Linked DNA regions of Homo sapiens: regions 1, 3, 4, 5 and 6 are each reported to be linked to region 2. The links are microRNA targets in miRTarBase. Many come from high-throughput screens and were not tested one by one. Region 2 holds a microRNA gene; each other region holds the end of a gene's coding sequence.

Region 1 (5,090 bases), not on the chromosome of region 2:
CTCCCGGGCGACACGGGGCCTGGGGAGAGCCGCCTGGCGCTAGGCCGTGGCAGGTTAAGTGGCTGCTGCAAGTGAATCTGCCCTAAAGGCGGGCAGTGGGCAGGTGCTCTGGCCTGGGGGTGGCCTCGTGGACTGGGCCTCTCAGGATTGTCCTGGACGTCTGTGTGATTCCGACCCTGGCACATGAAGTGGACACACACGTGAGCTGTTACCCTGAGGAGAAAGAAGCTCGTAACAGTTACAGTAGCTGAAGACATTATTAAATTTCTTAAAAAACAAAACCAAAAAAAACAACTTCTAGAAATATTCACAATACCTAAAGCTCAAGTTTTATTTGTCCTGTTCACTGGTGGTAAATGTGGGGTGGAAGGGATAGAGACAGGTTTTAAGGCCCTCCTGGCCTCTCATCCAGGCCTGGGGTCTGCAGGGTGAGAAGCAGGGTCGGGATGCATACTGGGTTCCCCGTTCACAGCCCTCTTCATGTGCTGTCCCTCAGATGGGCCTCCCCCTGGGGCCCCGGAGCCCTCTAGAGAGGCTGCTCTCAGAGACACTAAGGTGAGGACAGCATGTCTCAGAGGAGACCTCCCTGGCTTGGCCGCCGTCTCTAACAGTGTCGCATTTTCTCTGTCTCTTGCAGACAGTCGAGCCCGTGGATCAGCTGCTTCGAAAAGTGGACCCGGCCAAAGACAGGGAGCTGTGGGTCAGAGAGCACAAGACGGGCAACATCCGCCCTGTGGACATGGAGATCTAGATGGGCCTGTGCAGCTTCGGGGGGTCCTGCTGGGGAGGGGGGCTGGGCTCCCACCATGGGGCCCATGCCGAGTGGATGCCCCCCACCCTCTCTCCTGGGCCACTGAGGAGAGGGGAGAGAGCTGGTGATTCCAGAAGGGTGACCCGGACAGCCTAGCTGGGGGCTCCCCCATATTCCCAGGCCCAGAAGACAGACCCACAGCCCTGCCCTTGTCTCTGAGGCTGAAGACCCCCTGACTCCCATGCTGTGCTTGCCGCTCTGAAACAAACAGAGGCTGGAACTTTGTGGTCCTTGCCGAGTTTTGTAGGGGTCACTGTCACATGCTTGTGCCCTGGAAGCCCCAAGGCTCTTCCTCCAGCTGGCTCCCTTGTCTCCAGGGCTTTGGAGGATCAGGGTAGGGAGGGCTCTGTCTCTAAGCCAGGTGTCAGGATCAGAATCATGGGTAGAAGGTGCCATTCAGCTCACAGCCGCACCCAGAATCCTTTGCAGCCCTCCTTCTTTATTTTTTTCCCATTGCATTCTGGGAGTCCACATCTGGCTTTCTCAGCCACTGTTCATCACCAGGGGTTTTAGGAGGAAGGCTTGGCTCCTGTCTTCCCAGACCCACCATGCCTGGAGAGGTCAGGATGGAACTACCTCATTCGGCAAATTAGCCCCAAATTGAGCGCTGAATCGTGTCCCATGAGATCAGGCGCCATCTGTAAAGTCTCCTCTGGAAATGCCAATCCATCCTTCCCCCAGCTGCTTCCTCGGGGAGGCCCCTGCCCCCACCCTGCCAGCCCTTCCCAGTCTCATTAGAGGAAGCTTTCCAAAGTTCTCAGTTATCAAGACCTCATCCAGCTCGTCCAAAGGCTTCAGGGATGGAAACAAACCAGCTCGTCTCAGAGGCCAGCAAGCTGGGGCCTGTCCGCCACGGTGCCCTGTGCACCTTTGGGCTGCCCTGGCCCCCACTCTCCCGGGCCGCCCACCACAGGCTCTTAATGGGGCCGGGTCAGTCCTACATGTGAGATGGGTTAGGGCAAGTCTTTGCCATCCCCCAGATGGCTCTGTCTTCTTGTGTATGGCAGGGCTGGGACTGCTGTCCCTTGTACAGTTTTCTGTCACTGGTGGGCACTGGACAGGCATAGCAGACTCTCTTGTGGCCACACTAGGTTGTCGCCTTTCAGGCAGTGTCCCGCCACCTTTGCTTCCCGCTCCTTCTGGACATTCCAGAGCCCTGCACCAAACCCTTACTTGGTGTCTGCACCTCCTTTCCCTCTCTCCATCTTCCAATCCCTGGAAAAGTCTGGTCTGAGTGTGACTTGGGAAGCTTTCAGTGCTGCTGTTTGGCCCAGCTCATTACTTTCTCCCTTTCTCTACCACAGCAAACACATTCTCCACCATGTCAGTCTAAAGAGTCTAAAGGGGCCGGGAGAAGCATGAGCGAGGGGCAGATTCTAGTCGGGAGCCCATGCCCTGGAAATCCATCTTTCTTCATCTTTCCCATTGACCACTTTGGGTTTGACCTGCACATCTGCAGTGAGGGCAGAATTCAACAAGCACAACTCACTGGTCTTTCAGTCAACGTGCTAGAAACCGATGACTTATTAATCTCTAATTTTTTGGCGCCTCTTTCATTGAATGAGAATTGCTTTCGTATAGTTCACATTAGAAAAATGCCTAATATACTAAAGTAAACCAAACGTTGTCACTTTTCTCTTGTTCTTGAAACATTGCAACCAAAAAGGTCAGCACAAAGGCCTTCACCTACGTGAAGACCTCCTGGTAGGATCTGTCCATGGGATGGAGAACCACTCTGTCCAGATCTGGGGTTGGGTCATGACACCAGCTACCAATTTTAGAATATTATTTCTTGGTTTCTTTATGAAAAATGGGTGCTAGTGGTAATTGCTTTGTGGCTTAGTAAACTACTCTGTGGATGATTTCCAAACATTCAAAGCCAATAGCCTTGTTATTAACAAGATATTTTGAGTACAATATGGCTCATTGACTTTTCCATTACATCTGAGGATTCCAGAGTCCTCTGTTCATCCCTGGGATAGAGTGAGCCCTCTTGCGTCTTCCAGGGTAGCTCAGGTTGGCCCAGTTTGGGCCAGTCCATTTTTGGAGGTCACTCTTTCCCCCCTCATCCCCTCACCTCCTTCTCTTTACCCCCTTCACGTACTTCCTTTCTTTCTTCCCTCTGTTATTCATTCATCAAGCAGGTTAAAGCCATTGTGCTAAGATCTAATCTGAGGACACTATAATGGCCCTGTCGTCAGGGAAGCCCGTGATCGCTCGTTTTCAGGGGTCTTACCGGTCAGCAACCTTGGCATTGATACATAGGCACTCTACAGAATTTAAGTTTTCAGAGGTAAGTCTGTTGTTCTGATTAATCTGCATTCATTCAGCGAATGCTCAAGACAAGCCAGGCATGCTGAGAAGCGGCGCTCTAGTTGTATGTAAGATGGGCATTCCTCTGCTCTCCTCTATTCTCCATGTCGACTGAGAAGAGTATAATAAGAACATTGTACCCTCTCCACACTTAACCCTCTGGGATTCTTTATTATAATATAAACCACCGTCGTGAGGCATTTACCTGTTGGATGGAAGGTAGACAGCAACAAGATTTTAATCACCTGGTCACCAGACCCTCACGGCCCATATCCAATTCGAATTTCAGAAATTTCTCTGTTTGCTTTAAATAACTCTTTACAAATAAGGGTCGGGCACGGTGGCTCACGCCTGTAATCCCAGCTCTTTGGGAGGCCGAGGTGGGCAGATCACGAGGTCAGGAGATCGAGACCATCCTGGCTAACATGGTGAAACCCCGTCTCTGCTAAAAATACAAAAAATTAGCCAGATGTGGTGGTGCACACCTGTAGTCCCAACTATTCGGCAGGCTGAGGCAGTAGAATCGCTTGAACCTGGGAGGCGGAGATTGCAGTGAACCAAGATCGGGCCACTGCACTCCAGCTTGGGTGACAGAGCAAGACTCCATCTCAAAAAAATTATAAATAACTCTTTGCAAATAGGAAAGTGAAGCTCAAGGGTAACCAGTGAGGCTATGAAATTGCCAGTGAATTAAGACCAGGGCTAGAGTCAACAGTCCAGAACCCCTATCCGTATGAACAGGGGCCCGTTTCTGGTTGAAATCAAGGTTAGGATGCAACTGAGAAAATAAAAGACTGCACTTTGGAGAGGCAAGCACGCTATCCGGGTTGTTGTTTTGTTTTATGTCTTGGTGCTTAGGTGAGGACTTAGCTGGGTTTATTCAAAGTGGGCGGGTCTGGGCTATTCTTGAGAATGTCCCTTCCATTTCTGAGAACAAGTCAGCCCCTTCTACCTGCCTCCACCCAGGAGACTGATGCACAAGATCTGTTTGTGAAAGCCTGATTTAAAAAGAAAAAAAAAATTCCTTAAGCCAAATGGTGTTCCAAGTTGGTTGCTGTGACAACCTCCAGGAAGAGCCACTTGTTACCCTCTATTCTTTCTAGTGCTTTCAGTCAGTGGCAACACATAGGCCCCTTGGACCGTGGGGATGGCGGCCCTGAGATTCTGTCAGTGGGACCACCCTGGGCCTCCTTTCTACCTCCACTCAGCACCCTGTTGGCCAAGGAGAATTTCTGCGGTGGGAGGCAGTGCTCTGCTAGTCAGGATTGATAAACAGCTGGGCACACCGAAACAGTGTACCAACGAATTCACCAACCAGGGGTTTCTTTCCCTACCCTTTGTGAAAACCAATCAATTACTAGATGAGTGGATGGATGCAGAAAAATCTGGGCTGAGCCAAAGTCCCTTTTGGAAATACAAGCCATAACATTCGAAGGACATCAGCGACCTTGGCTTGTTTAGGTGATTTTACTTCCAGCTGCAGGTAGTCTTGACAAGGAGTGTTTAAACAGAAGGCTCAAGATGCATTCCTTGTGTAGGTCGGAGAGAGCACTTCTAATGTTAAGTGGGGTACAGATCAGCTGCCCCCCCACGTAGCCTGGACATCGTCTTATCCCCATAATCCTTGCCATCCCTACAAGGCCCATCGCCACCACCTTTTCCCAGGTTTATTGAGGTATGATTGACATCCAGTAAAATTCACCCTTTGGAAATATACAGCTCTGTGAATTTTGACAAATTTAGTGTCTTGTGACCATCACCAAGATCAACCTGTTTTTAACCCTCCAAAAAATTCCCTTCTCCTGCCCTCTTTCCCTGGCAACCCTGATTGATTATCTGATCCTATAATTTTGCCTTTTCTAGAATGTCATATAAATGGAGTCACACTGATGTCGCCTTTTGAGTCTGGCATCTTTCCCTCAGCTTAATGCTTTTGAGTCATTCATGATGTGTGCGTGTGGTTTGT
Region 2 (5,090 bases):
ACTGGCTAAAAAGTATATAATTTTGAATTATATTCTCTAAAGAGCAGAACATTAAAGATTACTAAAAGATTATTGGTCTTTTTCTAATGCAGTGCTTAGCAGAAAAGTACTCAACAGGCATTAACAGGCTAACATTTGTTCCAATGAAAAAGAAAATAAAACTGGGATCTATGTTGGTTAAAATTACTATAATCACAAGCAAAACTAGAAATACTCAGCTGGAAAGCACTAAAAACAAAAAAGCCCACATCATTCTCCTAATCCAATCAAAGATAAGAACCTTACTCTTGCCTATGTAAGACAAAATCATTAATAAAATAATTGTTAACATAAAATAAAGGATCATTTAATTACAGGTATGCCTCACATTATGTACATTTGCTTAATAAAATTTACATCTTGAACTGTTCAAGTTGCTCATGAATTCCTCTGAACTTTTGTTTAAACAAAGAAATTTCAGACTGCTGGGCATGAACCGTTACAGAGTGACACCTAGAGAAGTGGCATTGTAGGTTAGGTTCCTTGTCTAATTATTCAGACAAAAGCAAGAGTGGGTACAGAGTTCTCATAGTGTCAAAAGTATAGTTTGAAGACTGCCAAGTTTGAGAAAGAAAAATCCAATGATCTGGAAAAGAGGGAGAAGGCTGAGGATTAGGAAGGAGAAGTAGATTTCTAGAGAATGAAAAGTATCAACAGGTTTCAAAAATGCTACAAGAAGAGTATTTCCAGTATCCCGACTCCAACTTGGCTACCACATAAATTATTCTTTCTTCACTAAAAAGTATATTTTAGTATATTAGAATTAAAAAAAATTCTTCCTGTGATACATCTGAATTTAATCTGGAAAGTAGAGGAAAACACTATATCTTTTATAGGAATTTACGTCAATATTGTGGGAAAGCCTCTATTTTGTAAAGTAAGAAATGCCAATAGTAAGTGATACCAAACAACAAAATAAATATCCAGATCTCAACATAGATTTTTTTTTTTAAAACACTACCATTCTGTTTTGTTAAAGGACTGCACTGTTGCAATATTATCCCATTTCTTTCAGCACTTTCAGAGGAAAGCACAATCAATTCTGCAAGCTAAGAGAACTAGGACAATATAAACTGATGGTTCAGGAACTTCCCTGGAGGGCTCCACAGAATGTTCTATTTTTAACTCTCACTTTAACCAAGAAGAGAGCAGGAAGGAAATGCAGTGCTCAGCACAAAAGTATTGAACAGGCATTAACAGGCTGATTTTATTTTATATAGGTGATCTGAACTAGCATTTGTTCTAAAGGAAAGCATTCTTAATAACACAGAAATAATCAGAAAAATTACAAAAAGTATTAAAGAAATGCTTAGAATACCCATGAATCTAAGGTTATTTCACTTAATAGTACCTATTAATTTTTTTTCCAGACTGTGCTTGTACAATAGAAGCACTGTGAAGGTAGTTTTCTTTTTTTTTTTTTTTAAAGATGAGCCATTTTACTAAAGCCAAATTTATTTGTAACTAGGCATCTACAAGACCAAATTGTTAAAACCTCAAGCTTATAATCTTGGGCTTCTGTCTGTGGCACTATTTTAGTAGGTGGGCAAGTTCAACTAAAGCCAGCCCCATGGGTGTATTTGGAAGGAGATGCAATTGCCATCACACTTGATTATCCCTTCTCATCTCTCATCCCCTCTTCTCTCACTCCTGTGCCTGAAATAAACATATACATATACAAAAACCAATTCTAACAAAAACAGTCACACAGAGTTTATTGCTCACAGCTATTTAAAGAACTATTCCATGGAAGAGTCTATACAACTCAAGGAAATCTGTGGGTACTTACCAGATATATTTGGCTCCAGATTTCAGTGGCGGCAGGTTAATGGAGAAGGGAAAAGGGAAATAGGTGGATTTGTAGGTATTATACAATGTCTGAATCTATGCTGAATCACACAATACATACTAAGAAATGCTCACAGAAATCAATGAAAAAACAAGAATAGCCAGAGCCACTACCTAGTAATTTACAAATACAAAATTCCTATTACTTGGATTGAAAGTTGTCAGTAAAGAAATTGACTTTGTGCCTTGAGTCCCTATTTGACATAGCCGACTCTCCTATCAATAAGCCCCCTCACCTGCTTACCCAGTAGTGCTGACTTTTCTTTGCTCGCCTTTTACACCCTAGTTACTCTTAAATTTGTGCCTTCAAATTCTGTCAACAATATGCACACATTGAAGACTGTTTATCCTAACAAGTTTCTTCCATAGTGTCGTTCATCAGGATCCTACCATAGTCTGCTGGTAACAAAGCTTAATCAACTTGGAACCATATGATTCTGGGTTATCTGGAAAGCTAAGACTAAAGATATAATACATTGATAATCTTTGAAGTTATCAAATGGTTGCAAAACTAAAAGTATAGTTTCACAGAATCATTTTGCTTTCCACAGGTATGCAACAACATCATCGTTTGGAAAAAAAAATTAAATTATATCGTTGGTAAGAACCGAGACCAAGTAGCTTCAAATGCATTTAGGTGTATTAGGTCCGTTTGATGTCATGCTTTCATATATAACAATATCCCTAAAAAGTTGTGTAGCAATAGGGAGAGACATATTTGACTTCTGCTAATGAGTTTGGTATGCTTAAAACATTAAGCTTTTTAGATAAGCTCAAAACCAAACTGAATTTGTCATCCAAATCTACTTTGGAAAAGAAATAAGCAATAGCTTTCACAAATTTTTAACAGGTAAATTATATTAGGCCAAAGATGTCACTTAAATTCTAATCCCTATTTCTGAGTATGATGCATGATTTAAAGGTATTACAATTAATGAAAAATATAAACAAATGTTAACACCTTCATACAGCATTAAAAAAAGCAAAAAAGCAGTGGAAACCTGAGTAAAAAGAAGCCAGGAAGCAGCTGAAAAAGAGACCGGTTCACTGTGAGAAATGTAAACCTCTCAGACAGTGCTACGGCCCCGAATCCAACAGCTCAGGAACAAGGCCAATTATTGCAAAATATTAAATGTATATGGTGAAGCTACAAACTTGTCAAGAGTCATAAGAATAATAAAAGCTACACAGAAAACAGCTAGGGCTTTGTAAACCTAAAATCTTCACTATAATTACTACCTGCAGAAAGTTTCTTTATACTATACCACACTCCTTATATGCAGTGTACTTCACAGTATTCAAAGCATACATTTTATGATAAAGGTTTAAAGTAATAAATCTTTATTAGTGAAACTGGTAAGTAATCTGATCTTTTGAAATAGTTGCTTTCATTGACTCCAGTTATTGACAGTTGGTTGCCAAGCTGTTACAAACCAATTCTCTATTATTCTACCTTTTAGAACTAGAAATGACTCACATGAGACACAAAGAATTATGGAGTTTTACAGTACACAGAGGCTTCAACAGACAACACAGTAAAAATTCCATACTTTGCAAATGAGTCCAACTGAAACTCAGTGGCTTTAAGTGATATGCCTAACACCAGTTACAAATGACTAAGGGCCATCAGGATTCTGACTTTTATTTTGTTGTTCTTTCCCATTATACAGTGCATTGTTCAGAAAGTCTTATGTGTGTAGCCAGGGTTTCTTCTGTTTCTGTTGACAGGGGTTTACTCAACCTTGTTTTGAATGAACAGTTCAGTAGTTTCACATTCATAACAAAAGACTAGTACATTCATTTCCCCAGCAGTAATGTTAGTCCTGATTTCAGTTGTGGTCCACTGGGACACATGGATAAAAGACCTAGAGCATTTTATCCTTGAGATATTTCCCCATCCTCCTCCCTATCCACCAAAGGAAAAATAATGAAAGATCCTGTATTTCTACTGCCCATACCCTATCTGGTCTAAAAATACTTTGCTCAGTTGGGCTTGTTAATTTAGGGCAAAATTTCTTTAAGTTCAAATACAAACTTTTAAACATTACTTGTGCCACAGTGAAAAAAAATTGCTCCAAGTCTACTAGTGTTTTCATTATTTGGTTGAATAATTAGTTTCACCCTTTTATGTAATTAAAAAAAAACATGCTTCTTGACACTGTGGGGTAAGCAAGTGTTGTTTGACAAGAAATACAAATATAAGAGATATGAAAAAGTATTTCTCATTTTTAATCAGATTGGGATAGTAGAATGTAGAGAGGTAAGAAAATAAAAACCAAAAGGAAACCCAGAAGTATGTTTCCATATAAAAATGTAAATTATGAGACAGTAATTGCTATATACCTGTAAAAAAACTCAAAAACAATAAACTATCATGTTAATTTCCCAGTACATTTTACTTTTCTACACTAGGGCACATACAAACATAAATGCACACTTTTCTGTTAAGTTTTTTTTTTTTTTTTTTGAGACAGTCTCACTCTGTTGCCCAGGCTGGAGTGCAGTGGCGCCATCTCAGCTCACTGGAACCTCCGCCTCCTAGGTTCAAACGATTCTCCTGCCTCAGCCTCCCGAGTAGCTGGTATTACAGGTGTGCGCCACCATGCCCGGCTAATTTTTTTTGTGTATTTTTAAAGTAGACACAGGGTTTCACAATGTTGGCCAGGCTGGTCTGAAATTCCTGACCTCAGGTGATCCACCCGCCTTGGCCTCCCAGAGTGGTGGGATTACAGGTGTGAGCCACCGTGCCTGGCCTTCTGCAAGTTTTGACATAAAAATTAATGATGAGCTAACTATAAAAAAGTCTTTAGATTATAACTTTTAAAAAAGAGTTCAAATCCCCACTAATTCTATGAAAAGGTTCAATACAATTACCAACACAACAGTTGGCACTGGCCCTGCTGAACTTTTCTTTAAAGGAAAATTTTCTATGATACTTATTAGCATAACAAAATTCCTTTCTCTTTTAGATAAGAATGCTTTGAGGATTTATTCCTTTTATTCTTCAAACTGAATGAGTCAACTAACTTAAGCTGTAAGTTAAGAGGATACTATATAAAACAGCTGAAAGGACAAGTCTAGCTTTTATAAAGTGTTATATTATGACTGACTCATAAGAGTCAAACACAATGTCAAACATTTTTCAAAGACATGATTCTCTTTTTTGTGCCTGTAGCACTATCCAGATGCAACCTGATTTATTG
Region 3 (5,090 bases), not on the chromosome of region 2:
AAAACAGAAGTCACGAGATCTTCTAGGTTCATTATTGCACTGAGTATGTTTTCTGTGTTACTATTCTAAGTGAGGTACTATTGTAAGTGAGGTCTTTTGGCCATGATATTTCCTAACTAGTTACTACTAGCAAACAGAAAGTAACATTATCTCCTAATGCTGTGTTTGTATAACTCGAATTTGATCATGCTGTTTGTTCTTTTGATAGAGGATTGATTTTGCAGTATTTTGTTTAGCACTTTTGCCTCTGTATGTGAGCTCCACTTTAGTCTCTTGAGTATGAATGGATGTGCGCATGCACGCACCTTTAGAACTGTTAATATACTATGGAATTATTTCTTAATAGTTTGAAGGAATTTATTCTTATAACTGCCTGGGCCTAGTATACTTTTTGGAAGATAATCTGGTGCTTGCTTTCCCCTAGTTCTTCAAATGTTATCATTTTATTCTCTTTTGAGAGCTTCATCTTAAGTAGCTCTGCTGCCAGTAATACAATTTACAGTGCTTTACAAAGCACAAAATGCCGGGCGTGGAGGCTCACACCTGTAATCCCAGCACTTTGAGGCCGAGGTAGGAGGATCGCTTGAGGCCAGGAGTTTGAGACCAGCCTGGGCAACATGGCGAAACCCTGCCTCTACAAGAAAACATAAAAATTAGCCAGGCACGGTGGCTAATTTGGGAGGCTGAGATGGGAGGATTGGGAGGTTGAGGCTGCAGTGAGCCATAATCACATCACTGCATTCCAGCCTGGGCAACAGAGTGAGACTCTGTGTCGAAAATAAAGCAAAAAATGGACAGTATTTGCATAGCCATGATTTCATTTAATGACTATGTGCCCTACGTGTGGTCAACAAGGGGTAAAAAAAGCATCAGAGGCCCAGAGAAATTAGGGAACGAGGTCAAAATCACTCAGCTTGGATACAAAGACAGATTAGATATGGTCCTAATCCTCCCTCTGAAAAGGCTCACCTGAAAAAGACTAGAACAGACAGACCCTCTTCATGTGTTTGCACTTTCAAGTCCTAGTTCTAAGATAGGGCAGTAGCAGGTACCTATAGAAAGGGGAGCACTGAGAGAGGGGGCATTCAGTTTTCAACTGGAACCCAAGGTGATCCCTCACATTAAGAAGGGATCCTTCTTGTTCTGTGCAGGCTAATACACTTGTGATCATTTCCTGAAGTGATCAAGGCCCCGAAGTCTATAGATTCTATATTTCTCCTCCACACACCAAGAGTCACAGAAATGTTCCCAAAAAGAGTATTTTGACAATTCATTTGCCCTTTCAAACCTTTGATTTTCACATTCAAAATTCAGTCTTGAACAAGAGTGCTAACAGGTTTTTTTTTTGTTTTTTAAACTATAGACTCATTCTATTTTGAGACAGTAGCAATCATTCCATTCTTGTTTTCAAAGGATGCTACAATCATTTAAATTAGGATTTGAGATTCTCATGCGATTATAATGAGTGATCCAAATCTGTATTACTCTGCTTAATTTTAGGGATCATAAAGCATAATAATCATCAACAGAATGAATAATAATACGGTCACAATATCTTGCTCTGAATGTTACTTCTAGGCTTTTAATAGTTATAAACGGATTTCCACAAGCGTAAGGCACGAATTCATATATTAGAAACAATACATATACCTTCTCTATACTTTGCAAGGACTTCAGGTAGCCACTTAATTTTTCCTTCTTGACTAGGGAGAAAGAAATAGTAAGGCACTCAGAAAGGAGACGCATCCTCACTTAGTGGAAACCAAACACCTGGAATCCGGCCCCAGGTCTGAATGGAGAACAGCTCTAGAAAAAGCCTGCAGCTCAGGAGGGGTGTCTCTCAGAAACCAATAGAGGATTTCTCCCTGGGGTTCCCACTGTTACCACACATGCAATTCTCAGAGGAATGCCGTTCCCATGCCAAACCCTGGCAAAAGTTGGAGAAACTTCCCTCCTCAGTTTTGGCAAAGCACGAGCTGCTTCCAGTGGATACAAACCATCCACATCAAGTGACAAAACCAATGAAGCAAAAGGCTTTGCCACCTTAGTTTCTGTTATTGTCAATCTTATCATTTCCCGATATTTGGCTGATGAAAAGAAATTTACTAAATAGTTTAGGAGAAAAAAGGGGGGTAAGGATTACAGAAGATGCAAGCAGCACACAAATAGAATCAGAAATCAGGTCTCTGGCAACCCTGACCCGCTGGTCTCTGGCCCCAAAGGCAGGTCATTGCTTGTGCTTTTTCCTACCTAGGTCTCCCAGACTTTTGGGACAGGCATCACCACTGGAGCTTTGCTGATGCCCCCTCGGGTAAGCCAGCCCCACCCACCTGATTCAAGATCAGGAAGTAGCTGGCATATGCATGCATTCACATGTGCATACTCATGTCTTCACACCTTCCTGACCACCACTTCCTCCTAATGCACCCTTAGGAGAGTGCGTTCCAAGAGTTGAAAACTAGCATCCCTCAGCTGCTCTTTTCTGCTCAGCTGGTCAAAGGGCTGAAAACTATGGAACACACCTGTTTCAGGCTTCCCAACAAAAGAGGCACTGTCCTTCCTCTGAGCCAGGTCACAATGAGGTCACCTTCATCAATTTTGTTTCATAGCCAGAATCCACTGCATCCTCTATTTAGATATCATCTGCACTTTACTGCTATATGCTTTATATCTTGGCTTCTTCCAAAAGTAATCCAAGGCCTTTTATAGAACAAAACCATATACCTTGAGAAAGATGGTGCAGTTTGAAAGCCTCAAGGTTTTCTTCCTACATTACGACAAAAAGTTGTTTTCTTATTCACTATTTTCTTTGATGGAGAGATGAAGAAAAAAACTGCACAAGCCCACACATTCTGATCCATGCATCCTTTATTCCATTACCAACCACTGTGCCGCATCCAAGCAACAGTACACAAACTGGCAATCAACCGCAGTCCAGTTGTACAACGATCTGAGGCTTACAGTACATTTAAGGCTTTTAAATGTGGAAAAAAAAATTAAAACCAAAGAACCCCCAAATCCAAACCCCTAACCAACACAAGTAGTATAGCAATGTTAAGCATCTCCTATTTCTGATGCTTATTTGGCGCAACTTCCAGTGTCAAAACCCAAATAATTCCTAAACTAAAAAGATTAGTTTAGTGAAATTTTAATTACATAAATTCTTCAAAGCATAAACTTGGAATTTTTGTCTTGGAAATGTTATAAAATTTTTAATAGCAAAACATAGGAATAAAAACATATTAACAAAATGTATTCAATCATTTACATTACAAACAAGGAATCTGCAGTTCATTGTTGTAGCCTGACAAAAGAAATCATATCTACCATTAAGAATCTATGCACAATGTGATTGCAAATATGTACAGTACTTTAAAAAAGCCTACAAGGAGGACTTTACAGAAGGAAAGTCAGCTAGGCTCTTTGTTAAACCAACCAGACAATCAAAATAGTAAAACTCTGTTGGCTAGTAATAAATTTACACTTAAAAAAACCCCTAGTTTCTTTTTGTTTAAGAATATTCCAGTTATATTTATATGGTTACAGTTGATGAAGCTGTACACGAGAGTTCCAGTAAATTACCCTTCAGTTCATTTGTCCGGGAAAGATCAGCATGTTAACAAAAAATAATAAAGGAATTTTCACCACACTAGCTTTCCAGTTACACTATCACAGCTTCACAAATGGATTGAACCCATGTATCCAGTGGCAGAAAGAGAGCTGCATGTGAAATACCGAGAACATTGGTGGCAACAGGGCAAGTCCTGCATGAATGTCAGAAATGATGGATAAGGTTGAGAAACAGATGCGAGGCTACTTTATACAGCACTAGAAAATTGTCCCTACATTCAGCTCTCATTCCCATTCCTGCAAGGTAATGAAGCTGGGAATCACGACTGTTCAGTTTAACGTGTTGTGTGAATTAGCAGAACCACCTCTAGATACAAAAGACTGAGATTTCATCAGCTCTTTGATTAGAACACCCTAAAGGTTGGGCACTTCTTCATGGTTATCAAGCCTTTACAGCTACCCAGTTAAAGCATGTGCAAAACAGAGGACTCTTCTGTTCACAGTAAATGAGGTAAGATCAAGTTGTTGTCTTCAGGAATTAGGAAGTTCGTGAGATATGAACTGTTTTAGTCTTTCTAGGTATTGTGCATAAAGCTCTATGTCATTATGCCCAGCCCCTTCAACCCAAAGGGGCTCCACGGCTCGGGGACAGCGCTCGTACATCGCTAGGCCATGGGAGAAATCGATGACCTCATCCTCTGTACCATGAATGACCAACACAGGAGAGGTGACTTTAGATATCTTGTCAATGCTGCAAAACAGAAAGGGGGGAGGCAGAAAGAGGACTCCATTAGTTATGCTCACAGATAATACACATCACATTTAATGATAAGTTAATAATCTCCACAGGCAGGGAAATAACACCGTGGGTTTTTTTTGTTTGTTTTGTTTTGTTTTTAAATTAAGGACTTTATCTTTTAAAGCAGTTTTAGGTTCACAGCATAACTGAGAGGAAGGTACAGAGATTTCCCAGATACCTCCTTGTCCCCACACATGCACAGTCTCCCCAATTATCAATATCCCCTACCACAGCAGTACCTTTGATGAACCTACATTAACATATCATAACAGTTTGGCTTTTTCTTGCTTTATTTTTTTCTGGTAATTTAGTTTTTTTTCTTAAATCAACTTTGCATTTTAGAATAATTTTGAATTTGCAGGAAAGGTGTAAAGATAATACAGTGTATACAAAAATCAGCCAGGCATGGTGGTGCATGCCTGTAATCTCAGCTACTCGGAAGACCGAGGCAGGAGAATTGCTTGAACTAGGAGTGGGAGGTTGCAGTGAGCTGAGATCGTGCCACTGCACTCCAGCCTGGGCAACAGAGTGAGACTCTGTCTCAAGAAAAAAAAGAAAAGAAAAGAAAACAAAACAAAAAGATAATACAGTGCCCTGACATACTCCTGACCCATTTCCTGTAAGGTTAACATTGTACATTACCGTGATACATCTGTCAAAACTAAAACACCAACGTTGGTGCATTACTATGAACTAAACTCCAGACTTTATTTGGATTTCA
Region 4 (5,000 bases), not on the chromosome of region 2:
CCGGGCGCACCTGTGTCCAGCGGTGTAGGAGCCCCCATCGATTTGACCTTTTCACTCTAGGAAAACAGAAATGCTGGCGCCCTCTTGGTGGTCAGGCTGGGGTCATTCACATGGCTCCTTCCCTCCGCTCCTTAGGAGAAAGGCAGGGCGGGTCGGCATTGCTGCTGTCGGCGGGTGTAGACCCTGGGATTCTGACTCCAGCCCCCACTCATCCAGCCCCGTTGGCAGAGCTGGGTGCAGCGGAGAAGGAGGGCTCTCAGCGCCAAGGAGCCCCGCCAGGCCCTCTCTGTCCCGCACTCTCGCGGGGGCGCCTGCTTGGGCAGGCCTGCAGGGCGGCGGGTCCTCCGAGGCCAGGACTCCCAGACCCTCGCGGAGTCTCTGCCCGGCTATGGAGCAGTGTGGAGTAAGCTCAGCCTGGGCCCGGCGGGGACACAGCTAGGCCTCGGGCGCGGGGGTCGTTCAGCTCGAAGGAGCAAGGACTTTATAAATGAGCTTTCCTCTTCTGCACACTTAGGGAACCCTCCTCCTGTGGGGTAACAGTCTGGCCGGGGGCCCAGTCGTGGGGCGGTGTCTGCAGTCCGGGTCCAGATCCGCGGCACGCAGAGCCCGGGAGGCCCGAGAGGAACCAGCGGGCAGAGGACTTGGGAAAGGCGCACCGACTTCCCTGCAGGCCTGACTCCGGTCTCCATGGCGAAAGCAGGCAGGTGGCACAGCCGCGGCTCTCCATGAGGGAGCAGCTTAGATTATATGCTGTTGGATTAAAATGTAATAAACATAGGAGTAAAAAAAAAAAAAAAAACTCAGCGTTTCAAGGGTCTGAGGACTCATCCAGTTCCAAAGAGAAAGAACACTCTCCATGCCACTGTAAGCCTAGCGTCTGCTTGAACACCTCTGAGGACGGGGAACTCATTACCTTACAAAGCTGTGCCTTGCCCCTTTTCAGTGTTATACTTTGAAAACAGATTTTTAAAAAAATGATCGCTTCATGTTACCGTATTTTTATTAAAATAAGAGAGAGGCCAATACGGCAATAGAAGTTGTGCCAGTATTTTTTGTTTGGTTTTTAATCTACGAACTTTCTGAACTGTTCAGAAGTCGGGGTTCGCGGGGAATGCGTGGTCTCGCGCCATCAGCGATGACCCTGGGGCGCAGCTCGGGCCCAGGCAACGAGAACTCGGGAGTCTCCGCGGTGAGACCCCAGCTCTCTCCTTCCAGGGTTCTGAAAATCCCGAGGGGCAGCCCCCAGACCGCTTCCTGGCAGGGCAGAGGCCCAGCCCAGAGGCCCCGCTTCCGCCTGGGAACGCCAACGGCCCAGCTGCCTGGGGAAACAGAAAACGCCTAAAAAGTCGTCTTCGGTAACAGATCACCAGTCTCTGAGTTTCTTTTACAGGGAGAAGAAAAAAAATTTTTAAGCCATGAAAGTTTGGAAAAACAGCAATTCAACGCGTAGATCACTCGCTCAAAGACCCCAAACACTTCCTGATGAGCGGAATCCAGAGGCGCGGTCAGCACAGGCGAAGCTGATCCCTCCCCCAATCCTGCTTAGGAAGTTGTACAAAGTCTTTTGTTTTGGGGGGGAAACAACAAAAGGTAAACAAAAATGACACTTTGAAAAGGAGAGTCTCTTTGTCTCAGTGGAGTAAAAAGTTCCTGTCCCCAGGGGAAAGCGCCTCGGTCCAGCACGGGTGGCAGGGCCAGTGAGCACCCAGCCGGAGGGAGACCTGTTGAACTTCGCAAAATTTAAAAAAATGTAGTCACTGGAATAGCACCGTAGTTTTGAACACTTCCTCCTGGTAACAAAATGTGTACTTCTTTTGGTTATTCTGTGCTCACATGTGACATATCCAAACTGTCTTATTTAAAAAAAAATAATAATCACCTCTCGCTACAAAGGCACCTGGCACCTGCTCCCAGGCGGGGCGAAGGCCATGAGCACCTGAGTACTGGGGAGGATGCCCAGGCAGTTCCTCTGGACTCAGACATGCTTAGAAAACTCATCATTCCACCTGGGACCTTCAGTATTTTATAATAAAGAGATTTTGTTTTATTTAATGTAACCTTCAAGAATTTCAACACACAAAAATGCGGGGGTGGGGGTGTTCACAATTTTGATAAGCACAGTTGTAAATAGAAACATTCATTCATTTCTCATAAGATTATAAATATTTGATACTGGAACTGTAAAATGCACATGTTTTATAAACTAAAACAACAAAGAAAACAAAAAACAGAAACCAACTTTGCTTCCTGCTAAAAAGGCATGTCATTTCATTGAGTTTCCTAAGCAGCAGATGGTTATTCAGACTTTTAAATTACAACTTTTGTTTTTATACTTTCCTTTTTAAAAAGGTTTACACTATTATGTACAACGTAAAACTATTACTGCAATGAAATAAAGAGGTTTAAGGCAAAGAGCGAAGTTCACCCTCAGTCCTCAGGGAGACCAGCGGGACTCCCAGCTCAGCCGTGTGCACACCCCTGGGTCAGCCGTGGGCACACCCCCTGGGCTGTCCCAGCCACAGATGGACAGTTGGATTGGTCTTTCCCCATACACTAAACAGAAGACAGTGTGGCGTTATATATAGATAATGTGTTTGTTTATATACATATATAGGTACTTGGTGGGAAATATATTGAATATATTTAATTTACACTGTACCACACCTTCAAAAATAAAATGTATATTTTAAAAAACAAGAAAAGACAAAAAGTGATGATAAGAAATGATTATTTACACACTTTCTTCCTTCTTCTAGATCCTGGAGGATTCTGAGTTCTTTTGAAAGACAAGGTAGCCACATGTTTCAGAACTGTGGACTCAAACACGCCTGGTGTGTGTGTGTGTGTGTGTGTGTTCACATGCATGCAGACATATGTGTAAACACACATATTTATCTTGGAAGAATGTTCTCTATAGCAGAAGCAGCCACTCCAAGAAAAGAAAAAAATAAAGGAAAAAAAGAAAAAAATAGGGAAGAAAAGAAAAAGGAAAGGAAGATAGATGATGCCATCTCCCTCTACAGAGCCTTCTGCCCGCCCAGAAACAGTGAGCCATGGCCTCATTTCTGGGACCCTGGCTGGCACCCATGATGGCTGGTGGAGTCACAGGAAATTCCTGGGGCCAAGCCAAAAGGAGGGTCGCCCCACCGCTCTTGGGCTTTAGGCCACACACCCCAGGCCTTTAGCCCCAGAACCTCGAAGCGCTTCTGCATGGAGGCAGTGCCCAGGGCAGGAGGGTTAGGCCTGCGGCAGGACTGCGGTGGGACTGGGGACAGCGACACAGACCACAGACGCAGACGATGTATGCACACGGTTGGGCCCTTGGTGAGGAGGAGGAGGAAAGAGAAGGAGGAGGAGGAAGGAAGGAGGAGGAGGAGAAGAAAAAGAAGAAGAAAGGAGGAGCAGGAGGAAGGAGGAAGGAGGAAGAGGAGGAAAAAGGAGAAGGAGGAGGGAGTTAGGTGCAGGAGGGTGAGGAGAGGGAGCCGGGTGAGGCTGCGGGCCTGGGCGGCTGCTGGTGAGCATGGAGCCGACTTCCCAGAGCAGGCCTGGGGTACGCTGGGCTGCTTCCCAGGGCCAAATCCCAGAACTGGCCCAAGGACCCTGGAAGTCCCCTCTCTCCCACCAGGTCCCCTAAGCTCCCCAAGGCCTTGAGGTGGCTGGTCCAGGCTTGAGGTGTGGGCCCCTCCTGCTGTCCTCACCAAGCCAACACAAACAAAGTGGCAGAAGTCATAGACCAAATAGGAGCTATTTATTCGGTTCACAGTTGTGTGAAATGCAGCAATAAAAAATCTTTGGACTTCAGCAAGTTGTTTTAATTTTTTCTTCTTTTGGAATAATAAAAAAGTGTCCAATGTCATATAATGGAGCTTAGGGGATTAAAAAAAGGTGAAACCCTAAGCAGCCCCCTTCGCAAAAAAGAAAAAAACCCATAAAATTAGCATAATCTCATAAACACAAAAAACTCAAAAAAATATTTTATAGTCAGATATTTTGGATTTTATACCACCTGTAAATGATATATACATAGAATATTTCAGAACCTTAGCTAATACACAATATTTTCACTATTAATGCTGGTATAATCTTTATACACTGGCCCTTTATGATTTTAAATTATTGCATTGTTTAGCGCGGACTGAGACCTGGCCTCCATGCCCCCCGCCCTACTCGCTGTCCGACTTGCCCTCCTTGGCTGTGGTGGAGTGGTTGTACAAGCCCTGTGCCATGAGGTGCACGGCCAGCGTGTTCTTGTTGCCCGTGGCCTTCTTGATCTTGGCGCGCTTGTTCTGGAACCAAATCTTGATCTGTGACTCGTTGAGGCTCAGCTCCTGCGCCAGGCTCTGGCGCCGCTGCTCCGTCAGGTACCTGTTGGTCTGGAACTCGGCCTTGAGCCTCTGCAGCTGCTCGGCGGTAAAGGCCGTGCGCGGCCGCTTGTCCTCTTTGTTCGGGTTCTTCTTCTTTGGTTTTCGAGACCTGGGACCTGGGTAGATACGGTGGACAGAGAGAAGTCAGGTTACCCAGAGGTGTGCCACCCAATAGGCACCGGGTAAGGATTCTGGGGCCCCAAGAGGGAAGTGACTCGCCCAAGGCCACTCGAGGCTGAACCGCCAGATGTGGGGCTAGACTTCGGACTGGGCATGGGCTCAACGCGGACCTCCACCACTTGGTGAGGGAGGACTGCGTGTGATGTAAGTGGGACTATGGGGCAGGCCTAGTGGGCAGGCTGACCACAAATGAGGGGTCTCTAGATAAAAGTAAAACTCCTGGATGTAAGCAAAACTCCCCACACTTTCTGGCCTGGTTTTTCCTAGTCCTTTCTGAGGCTCTCTGTTCAGGAACAGGGATGGCGGTAGGTGCTGAGAGAGAGGGGAGGAGAGAAGACTGGGAAAGGCTGCAGGGCGGTCACAGAAGCAGGAGGCGCCCTGAGGGCTATGATGGGGACCCTCATGGGGATACCCCACAGGGTGCCAAGGGCTGTGGGAATCAGGGGCAGGTGGGCC
Region 5 (5,073 bases), not on the chromosome of region 2:
ACAGTACCGAACTCTAAATATACTTTGTTTTTCCCTGTACATGCATATCTATGATAAAGTTTAATTTTTGAAGTAGGCATAGTAAGAGGTTAACAATAATAACTAATTATAAAATAGAACAATTATAACAATATGCTGTAATAAAAGTTATGTGAATAAAAGTTCTGTGAATAAAAAAGTTATGTGTAATAAAAGATATATGCTCTCTTTCTTTCTCAAAATATCTTAATATTTTTGGATCGTGGTTGACTTCGGGTAGCTGAAACCTCAGAAAGCAAAACTGCAGATAAGGGGGGATTACTGTACATGAATGACCTTGTAACACCTATTATGTTACTAACACAATTTTCATATTAATTTTGATATACACAATAATTAACATAATTAAAATATTAACACCTGTTACTTTATGCCTTGTATGATTTAACTCTCATTTTTTTCAAATAACATATTTGTACCTCTTGTTCTTCTAAATAGAGTTCCAGTTCTTTGTGGGCTGAGACTGCACAATCATATTTCATTTGAATCCTGTACCATTGGCACAGTTGTAGTTAGTCGGAGAGTACCTCTAGTATTCTGTAAGTTCATCACCCTTTTGAAAGCAAGCATGTTTTGACTCTGTTTCTTGTTCTTTCTTTTGCAGGCCACTATGTACATGGTATTTGTATCTATGGAAACGGAGACTTAAAGTGGCTGGTTAATTCACCAAGCCTGTTTGCTAACAAGTTTGAGCTTAATACCTACCCCCTTACTGTGGAATGCCTAGAACTGAGGCATCGCGAAAGAACCCTCAATCAGAGTGAAACTGCGATACAACCCAGCTGGTATTTTTGAGCTATTCATGAGCTACTCATGACTGAAGGGAAACTGCAGCTGGGAAGAGGAGCCTGTTTTTGTGAGAGACTTTTGCCTTCGTAATGTTAACCGTTTCAGGACCACGTTTATAGCTTCAGGACCTGGCTACGTAATTATACTTAAAATATCCACTGGACACTGTGAAATACACTAACAGGATGGCTGGGTAGAGCAATCTGGGCACTTTGGCCAATTTTAGTCTTGCTGTTTCTTGATGCTCACCTCTATATTAGTTTATTGTTAGGATCAATGATAAATTTAAATGACCTCAGATCTTTGCACCAGATACTCATCATATACAAATGTTTTAGTAAAAAAGAGAATTGTAGATAATACTGTCTAGGAAAATAAGAATTAGGTTTCTTTGAAGAAGGAATCTTTTATAACACCTTAACAGTCACCACTGTGCTCAACCAGACAGATAGTGAAACAGCTTTCTGGGTAATTCACCAATTTCCTTTAAAACATAAGCTACCTGAATGGAGAATACATCTTGTTTCTGAGTTTCAACACTAGCATTTTTGGCTTACTCATGGACAAAGTTCTGTATATAGTATAAAGTCATTAACAAGAAACAGGATATGCTTTAAGACAGAATTCACTGTCTGTTGCTTCAGTAAAAGGACCTCGGGGAATAAAACATTTCTCTCTTATATGCCAGAATGTAGGCTGGTCCCTATGTCATGTCTTCCATTAAGAACACTAAAAAGTCCTTGCAAGAATGGAGATATGCATTCAAGAGAGGTGCTATCACATAGATCTAGTCTGAAGTCTGGAACACTTTCCTCTTCTATGACCCCTCTCTCCCCAGTATTATCTTACTTGCAAAATGGAGACCAAATTCTATCCTGTGAGGCTTTTAATTGCACCATAGTATGCTCTGAGTAGCTTTACACTGCCTGGTACTGATAGTAGTGGCTCGATTTTTAAGAGCCTTCAATTGTAGATGAACATCTCTGTTATTTATCCCTCATTCATCCATCCGTTCATTCATTCAGCCTTCAATCAACATCTCTTGAGTGTCTATTATGTACAGGACATGTACTGAGACAAAAAGGAAACATAAGAGCTTTTTCACTCTAAAAATCTTGGCAATAATGTCAACACCAGAAAGCCTCCTCTGGAGAATCTTACAGAGTGATTGTAGTTTAATACAGGAACACACAGGGCTGTGTAGCATGATACCAGGCCCAGGAGATCAGTAATTACAAATTAAGGGTTAAATCAGAGATTATTCAACAGAGAGGGAGAAAGGAGGAGACAGAGGGAGGACCTGTTGTGTTCCAGCCATTCTGGTATTCCTTTATGTATCTAATTTCATTCAAACCTCACAACAGTCTTGTGAGGCCCTTATATAATTACTCCCATTTTGCAGATGAAGTAACTGAGGCTTAGAAAGGTTAATAGCACCGGGGAACAATTTCTCTGGGTGAGAATTGGGACTCTGTTGCTGGTCTTCTCAGTTCATTTCCTGAGGTGGATTTACTGAGAGAAGGTGAAATAAAGCCATATTTAGTATACCAGAGAAGGTAGATTTTAAGAATGGTCTCAGTGTTAATACTGAGAAAAAGTCCTGTCAGTTCAGAAAAAATGTGAAGTCTACTTTAGTATTCCTGTAATACTAAACCGTTGAGTTTCTAAATATTTATTTATTCTAACAAAAAGCAATTACTACAAATGGATGACACATTTAATGAACACAATTTTATTTTTTTTCTGTAACTGTGCTTGTTGAATGTCAATCATATTTAAAGGGAATGACTTTGAAGTAAAACCTTTTTTCTTGCTACTGAAAAAAATGGAGTTGTTTTGGGTGGTAAAGTGTTAAGGAATAGGGACAGCTGGTCACACAAGGAACTCTTGAAGGCCACATGTGAAAACCTGTCACTTGCACAGAGGCCAGTCCCACTAAGGTGACCAGAGTGGGCTCCAAGCACAAACTGCCATTGGCTATAGATGGGACTGTGTCCCCCCAAAATTCATGTGTTGGAGCCTTAACCCTCAATGTGATGGTATTTGAGATGGGGCCTTTGGTAAGGGAAGTTTAGATGAGGTCACGAGGGTAGGACCCTCATGATGGGATGAGTCCCCTTACAAGACCTCTGGCTTGGGCCGGGCGTGGTGGCTCACACCTGTAATCCCAACACTTTGGGAGGCCAAGGCAGGTAGATCACTTGATGCCAGGAGTTCCAGACCAGGCTGGCCGACATGGTGAAACCCCATCTCTACTAAAAAATATAAAAATTAGCCGGGCTTTGTGGCATGTGCCTGTAATCCCAGCTATTTGGCAGGCTGAGGCATGAGAATCGCTTGAACCCAGGAGGTGGAGGTTACAGTGAGCTGAGAGTGCCCCACTGCACTCCAGCCTGGGTGACAGAGCGAGACTTTGTCCCAAAACAAAATAGGTGAGGGGATAGCGAATGCACTCAGGGTCAGCAGTGGAGTTTAAAAATTGTCTCTTTTCAACTTATTTAAATGACAGCACCTGAGAAGAGGAACCGTTTTACACTGGATGTTTCTCATGTAGAACAAGAAATCTTTCTGGAATTGATGTTTACATGTCTGTTGTTGGTCATCTCTCCTGTGTCTTAAATACTTTAATGTTGGAAGAGCATAGTGTTTGGGCTAGTGGGTTTCTGACAGCCCATGGGAATGCCCTGAAACTACTGTATCTGATGTTTGTTTTCGATGAGGTTCCATGTTTTGTTTTCTTGGGAATAAATTAATATATTGTTTTCCACTTCGGGGATACTGTGTATTTTTATATGACAATTGGTTAAAAATCCACTAAAGGATATGTCTAACAAGGCAATTCTCCTGGTGTTAAACAAAATTTACATTCATTCATACATACATGCATACCTGTCTAAGAAACATCCATCCACTGAAAAATCATTAAACTTTCCCATTGTGGGGTGTTGGAGAGAGTAACTGGGAGTGATAGAGAGAAGAGGGCGCAATAGAAGATCAGTGTCATTTGAATTGGGTATAACTTTTTTTTTTTGGTAAGAGTACAAGTATTTTTAAAATTTGAGACAGGAATAAGTTAACTTATTATTTACCTGCCTCTATTGTTCATTTAAAAAAATCAAGATATACATTAGGAAAAAGTTTTATGTTAATATTACCATAATTACTGATCAAGTGCCAATGTTTTTGAGCAGCATTTCAATTGTAAGTTTGATAAATATTGCCTCTAACAGACACATGGAAAATGATCAATACTAAAAAAAAAAAAAAAATCATTTAAAGGACATCTTATCCATCATATTTTTTCAAATAAAAATATTTTAAAGCTAAAGCGAAAAACATTTTAAACTATAATAAATACATACATGCTCATAAACATGGAAATAATGAAGAATATAGAATAAAAAGTGCACTACTTTCTCCAGACATAATCACTTATTTGCTTTTTTTGGTTTTTGTTTTTCTGAGACAGAGTCTCACTCTGTTAACCAGGCTGGAGTGCAGTGGCACAGTCATGGCTCACTGCAACCTCAACCTCCTGGGCTCAGGTGATCCTCCCACCTCAGCCTCCCAAGTAGCTGGAACCACAGGCATGTTCCACTGCACATGGCTAATTTTTGTATTTTTTGTAGAGACAGGATTTTGCCATGTTATCCTGTCTGGTCTCAAACTCCTGGGCTCAAGCGATCCACCTGCCTCAGCCTCCCAAAGTGCTGGACTACAGGCTTGAGCTACCACACCTGGTCAAGTGCTTTCTCAGTGTACTGATATAATCTATAGCAGTGCTGTCCAGTAGAATTTCTGCAATGATAAAAATGTTCTACATCTGCACTGCCCAATATAATTGCCACTCACATAAGCTAATGAGCTCTTGAAATGCAGCTAGTATGATTGGGAAATATTCTTTAACATTTTATTTGGCTTTAATTTTTTTTTTTTTTTTTTTGAGATGGAGGGGACTCATCCAGGCTGGAGTGCAATGGCACAATCTCGGCTCACTGCAACCTCCACCTTCCAGTTCAAGCGATTTTCCTGCCTCAGTCTCCTGAGTAGCTGGGACTACAGGTGCATGCCACCACGCCCAGCTAATTTTTGTGTTTTTAGTAGAGAGGGGATTTTGCCATGTTGGCCAGGCTGGTCTCAAACTCCTGATCTCAGGTGATCTGCCTGCCTCAGCCTCCCAAAGTGCTGGGATTACAGGTGTGAGCCACCGTGCCTGGCCAGCTTTAATTAATTTAAATAGCCACA
Region 6 (5,079 bases), not on the chromosome of region 2:
GAAAAAAACCACATAGGTACTGTTAAGACCCTGGAGCAACTATCCTTCACTCTATCCACACTGAATTCTCTGGGTTTTGTTATTTGCTTGCTTGTTTTGCTTAGGAAAAGTATGCAGCTTAAAATCTTTATGATGACTTTAGAAAGTTTTGGACTTTGTATATTTACAGTCTTTAATGCAACCAAAGACTAATTGACACAGGTCATGTGTCAAATGGCTTAAAATAAAAGCAAGCAAACAGCAGCTGTGTCTGGTCATGTATAGAGTATGTTTTGACTTCGGATGAAGTTGATGTTTAATAGCATGTGGAAACAATGTCGTCAATATTTCAACTTTGTTTTGTCCTTGCTTTTCAGGTTTGGGAAGTAGCTGCTCCATACATTGAAAAATACAGAATGGAGCATATTCCAGAATCAAGACCTCTTTCTCCAACAGCCTTTTCACTGCAATTTCTGCACAAGAAATCCACCAAAATCCCGGAGTCTGAGGACCTTTAATGGGCTTTGTCATGAAGTAGCAGATGAGAGGGCAGTCAGTTTAGCACAAAGCAATACTAGGCTGAAGGAGAGACCTGAGAACTTTCCTAGGTAGATCAATCCATTGTATCATTCAGTTCTTCTAAAGCCTACGTTGGTTAGGCTGATGGCAGTATTATAGTTGCTAAATTCAGCACTGTGTTCCTGTTGTCGTGGTTCAAGACCCACCAGGTATTTTCAGATTATAAAACTTTTCTTTCTTTCTTAACAGTTTCAACAGGCCACTCACTCTTAAGGGTGAGAAGAATAACCACAATTGTATGTGCCTGTTTTTTACTCTTAGCATTAGATGAATTCAAATTTGGAAACAGATTGATAGCAATTTTTTCTAAAAACATTAGACTTTTGTTAACCTTTTTTTTTTTTTTTAAATTTGCTTCAACAAGCTCTCCACCAGTTGACTTTCTTTGGCTAATTTTACTTTGCATGATATGCCTTAATATGCCTTCATAAATAACCATTTTAAGTCATAATTTGTCCTTAAGCTGCTTTTTTCTTCTATTAATTGGATCATAGTAAAGAGTAGTCAATAGGGTCTTCAGCTATTAATTGTAGAGGTGATTAAAACCAACAAGGAGTTTCATGTGCAAAGGAGATAAGGAATGAATATAAAGATTGCTATTTGGGTGGCTCTTATTAAACTGTGTATTTTGTACTTATCACTACACGTATCCCCCAAATGCTTACATGGGAGTTTGAGGTTAGTATTTTCACTTCCTTGGTGTTAGTACTCTATTCACATTCTTATTGTAACCTTCCTCATTTCACAGATAAGGAATCTTTGGGGATTAACCAACCTCCTTTCTGTAATGGTAATCATTAAAATAAGTCCTATTGATAAAGGTCAGATGGAGCCCTAGAGTGTATTACTGCATCTATTTTTTTCCCCGAGAAGATAAAGGACCTTCAGGGATGGCTTAAGTGTATCTGTCCAGATGAAGGATGGGTCACATGACCTCTTGGCTTCCCAAGTCTAAGCTCTGTGACTTTGCACCAGTGTGTGCATATATGTGCAAGGCCCTTCAAGTGGTCTGAAACCGTGGCTCTAAAAACCACAGCTGGTGGAGAGGAGGACAGACACACTTGCCACCTTGCCTACCTAATTGCCATCTAAAATGGGCCGAACAGTGGATTTCACAATAGAGTTTTCACCCTTTAGATTTACAACCTGTCAGGTGGAAACTGAAGTGAAAACTGCTGCACACAGCAATTCAGGGAGCAAAAAATGTGCTGAGGAGACTGTTTACCTAAAGGTTGTTCTTGGTGCTATTCCTTGTCAAAATGTGAACACACACAAATGAGGTTTGTGCATTGTCATCCGTGGGCTGCCATTGAGCCAGTAACCCCCAGTGGTCTCATGGTGCTCTTCGCTCCAGTTTGGGGAATGCTGGATTCTTTCAGCCCCTGCAGCCCTCCAGGTCAAAATGACACTTTGTCACTGAGTTTTCTACACAGCTCTATTAGTAACTGACAGCACACGCCTTCAAGGGAACTTCAAGGGAAACATGGAATAAACTAAGTCTCAATTGCCTTATGGTGTCGCTTTATTCTTAGGTATTTATAGCAAAGTTAAGCGCCTCTAACAGCAGTTAATCAAGCTTCTGAAGGATTCAGTTGACAGATGTCAACCGTTTTAAGAACAATATGCTTGACTCAGTACACTCTTTTTCCCATTGGCTAGCAACAAAAGAGTTGGAGGTATCAGGATTTCCTCCCCAGCCCCGCAGGCTCACCTGGTCTTTGTCACAAGTTGTCTCAGGGCAGCTGGAGGAGGCAAACCCTAAAGAACAAGGGCTTTTCAAGTCCCTGTTGTGCCACGTTCGCTAATGTCCTGTTGGCTAAAGCGAGTCACGTTCCAGGCCCAGAGTCAATTTGGGAGGGTAACACTCAAGGGCATGGGCATGTGATTTGACGTGATCCATGGGCCTGTATCTGACAATCTACCACATGCATAAAATCCCATCACAGGCTGGGTGCAGTGGCTCATGCCTGTAATCCCAGCACTTTGGGAGGCCAAGGTGAGTGGATCACGAGGTCAGGATTTCAAAACCACCCTGGCCAAGATGGTGAAACCCTGTCTCTACTAAAATTACAAAAATTAGCCAGGCACCGTGGCAGGTGCCTGTAATCCCAGCTACTCGGGAGGCTGAAGCAGGAGAATTGCTTGATCCTGGGTGGCAGAGGTTGCAGCGAGCCAAGATCGTGCCACTGCACTCCAGCCTGGGTGACAGAGTGAGACTCCATCTCAAAAAAAAAGAAAGAAAGAAAAAAAAGAAAAGAAAAAGAAAAAAAAGTCATTACAACCGGCAAAATTCAAAAGCAGATACATTTCATACTGCTTTAAACCTGTGTCTGATTTTTGGGTCTGGTCACTGGATTGCTTTTTATTAAACTTTATGGTTCTCTTTATGGTTCATTTTGCTTTTTTTTTTTTTTTTTTTTGAGATGGAGTCTCGGCTCTGTCACCCAGGCTGTAGTGCAATAATGCTACCTTAGCTCACTGCAAACCTCTGCCTCTTGCGTTCAAGCAATTCTCCTGCCTCAGCCTACCGAGTAGCTGGAATTACGGGTATGCGCCATCACACCCGGCTAATTTTTGTATTTTTAGTAGAGATGGGGTTTCACCATGTTGGTCAGGCTGGTCTTGAACTCCTGACCTCCAGGGATCCACATATCTTGGCCTCCCAAAGTGCTGGGATAACAGGCGTGAGCCACTGCTCCCAACTCATTTTGCCTTTTTGCTTACTTTTGTTGAGAGTATTAATTTATTAAATGTAAACATTGTAAATGTAAATGTAAATGTAAAAAATAGTTGGAGAACATTAGTTTCAGCCCAGAGGGTAGACTTCATTAGTCTAACATACAAAAGACAGTTAAATTACAATGCTACAAAGGCTATCATAGAGATGTGGGAATGTGGGGAAGGGCGTCCAGCTCCAGTTTCCCATGTAAGGAAGAGAAGGAAAGCATTCTGGGCAGAGGGAACCGTATTGCATGGCCCTGAGCAGCTCACTGTCCCCTAAGGAACAGTGTGAAGATTGGTGTGATTAGGGCTTAGAACTCAGAGCTGCTCAGACCTTAATGTGCATGTGAATCACCCGGGGCTTATTAGCATGCAGATTCGGACTCAGCAGGTCTGGGTCCAGCCAGAGGTTCTGCATTCCTAGCAAACTCCGTCAGTTGCACGGGCTTGCAGCACGCTGGCCTGGGAGGACTAGGGCAGTTTGGGTAGATGTCTTTTTCTGTCTTCTTTCAAAAAAGGCATGAATGCTATTTGTTTAAAGTGAGTGCCTCCTAGATGAAAAATCAGATGTGCTTCTCCTTCTTGTTTCTTCAATAGAAGAATCTAATCTTGTGTTGCTTGAGTTCCAGGGAAGACTCGACCTAACATTCCGTTTTGGCTTTTATGTGTATCTCCTGCGCCCCAAATGTTCAGTGCCTAGGTGACTGGTCACAGGGGAGCCATCACACACAGCAACTGTGTGCCCCCTACACTGTCTCAAGACTTCTTAAATAATCGCATGAGGTTCAGAGCTCCAGAGACCCCATTGTGATTGTGTCCGGAATTGGTGGGTTCTTGGTCTCACTGACTTCAAGAATGAAGCCGCGGACCCTCGGGCTGAGTGTTACAGCTCTTAAGATGGTGCGTCTGAAGTTGTTCGTTCCTCCCGGTGGGCTCGTGGTCTTGCTGAGCTCAGGAGTGAAGCTGCAGATCTTCGTGGTGAGTGTTACAGCTCATAAAAGCAGCGTGGACCCAACGAGTGAGCAGTAACAAGATTTATTGCAAAGAGCGAAAGAACAAAGCTTCCACAGTGTGGAAGGGGACCCCAGCGGGTTGCCAATGCTGGCTCGGGCAGCCTGCTTTTATTCTCTTATCTGGCCCCACCCACATCCTGCTGATTGGTAGAGGCTAGTGGCCTGTTTTGTCAGGGCGCTGATTGGTGCGTTTACAATCCCTGAGCTAGATACAAAGGTTCTCCACATCCCCATCAGATTAGTTAGATACAGTTTCCACACCCAGGTTCTCCAAGGCCCCACCAGAGCAGCTAGATACAGAGTGTCGATTGGTGCATTCACAAACCTTGAGCTAAACACAGGGTGCTGATTGGTGTATTTACAAACCTTGAGCTAGATACAGAGTGCCGATTGGTGTATTTACAATCCCTGAGCTAGACATAAAGACTCTCCCTTTGGGAGGCCGAGACGGGCGGATCACGAGGTCAGGAGATCGAGACCACCCTGGCTAACACGGTGAAACCCCGTCTCTACTAAAAATACAAAAATTAGCCGGGCATGGTGGCGCGCGCCTGTAGTCCCAGCTACACGGGAGGCTGAGGCAGGAGAATGGCGTGAACCCGGGAGGCGGAGCTTGCAGTGAGTCGAGATTGCGCCACTGCACTCCAGCCTGGGCGACAGAGCGAAACTCCGTCTCAGAAAAAAAAAAAAAAAAAGACTCTCCACGTCCTCACCAGAGCAGCTAGATACAGAGTGTTGATTGGTGCACTCACAAACCTTGAGCTAAACACAGGGTGCTGATTGGTGT

Evidence for each region. Region 2 holds the annotated microRNA hsa-miR-128-3p (UCACAGUGAACCGGUCUCUUU, at 2,920-2,940, opposite strand). A microRNA usually pairs through its seed, bases 2 to 8, with sites in the 3' UTR of a target mRNA and lowers its output. Matches are read on the target gene's strand: a 7mer-m8 pairs with bases 2 to 8, a 7mer-A1 pairs with bases 2 to 7 and ends in A, and an 8mer does both.
Region 1: the mRNA of GAS7 is a reported target of hsa-miR-128-3p. The part of its 3' UTR that is shown has no 7-base or 8-base seed match.
Region 3: miRTarBase lists ABHD17C as a target of hsa-miR-128-3p. Seed matches in the 3' UTR shown: 7mer-A1 at 4,068-4,074.
Region 4: miRTarBase lists EN2 as a target of hsa-miR-128-3p. Seed matches in the 3' UTR shown: 7mer-A1 at 3,758-3,764.
Region 5: miRTarBase lists GCNT2 as a target of hsa-miR-128-3p. Seed matches in the 3' UTR shown: 8mer at 992-999 and 7mer-m8 at 1,257-1,263.
Region 6: miRTarBase lists HAL as a target of hsa-miR-128-3p. Seed matches in the 3' UTR shown: 7mer-m8 at 671-677.

What each region holds. Positions count from the first base shown.
Region 1 is chr17:9,912,889-9,917,978 of GRCh38, reverse strand. GAS7 (growth arrest specific 7) reads left to right here. Exons shown (of 14, transcript NM_201433.2): 14 at 638-5,090. The coding sequence ends at 751. Among named protein-coding and RNA genes, the nearest start is that of RCVRN, 10 kb to the right of the region's middle.
Region 2 is chr2:135,663,296-135,668,385 of GRCh38, reverse strand. MIR128-1 (microRNA 128-1) reads right to left here and starts at 2,989; the gene lies at 2,908-2,989. The region is part of intron 19 of R3HDM1 (R3H domain containing 1); the gene reads right to left. It overlaps LOC124907893 (a long non-coding RNA gene), which reads right to left. Exons shown (of 2, transcript XR_007087245.1): 1 at 1,829-5,090; 2 at 1-625. RefSeq lists an enhancer at 3,572-3,671.
Region 3 is chr15:80,753,382-80,758,471 of GRCh38, reverse strand. ABHD17C (abhydrolase domain containing 17C, depalmitoylase) reads right to left here. Exons shown (of 3, transcript NM_021214.2): 3 at 2,851-4,321. The coding sequence ends at 4,102. Among named protein-coding and RNA genes, the nearest start is that of CEMIP, 23 kb to the left of the region's middle.
Region 4 is chr7:155,461,851-155,466,850 of GRCh38, reverse strand. EN2 (engrailed homeobox 2) reads right to left here. Exons shown (of 2, transcript NM_001427.4): 2 at 2,020-4,480. The coding sequence ends at 4,164. Among named protein-coding and RNA genes, the nearest start is that of EN2, 6.2 kb to the right of the region's middle.
Region 5 is chr6:10,625,774-10,630,846 of GRCh38, forward strand. It overlaps GCNT2 (glucosaminyl (N-acetyl) transferase 2 (I blood group)), which reads left to right. Exons shown (of 5, transcript NM_145649.5): 5 at 644-3,595. The coding sequence ends at 834. Among named protein-coding and RNA genes, the nearest start is that of C6orf52, 66 kb to the right of the region's middle.
Region 6 is chr12:95,969,650-95,974,728 of GRCh38, reverse strand. It overlaps HAL (histidine ammonia-lyase), which reads left to right. Exons shown (of 21, transcript NM_002108.4): 21 at 357-2,067. The coding sequence ends at 497. Among named protein-coding and RNA genes, the nearest start is that of HAL, 24 kb to the left of the region's middle. RefSeq lists enhancers at 3,333-3,978, 3,979-4,624.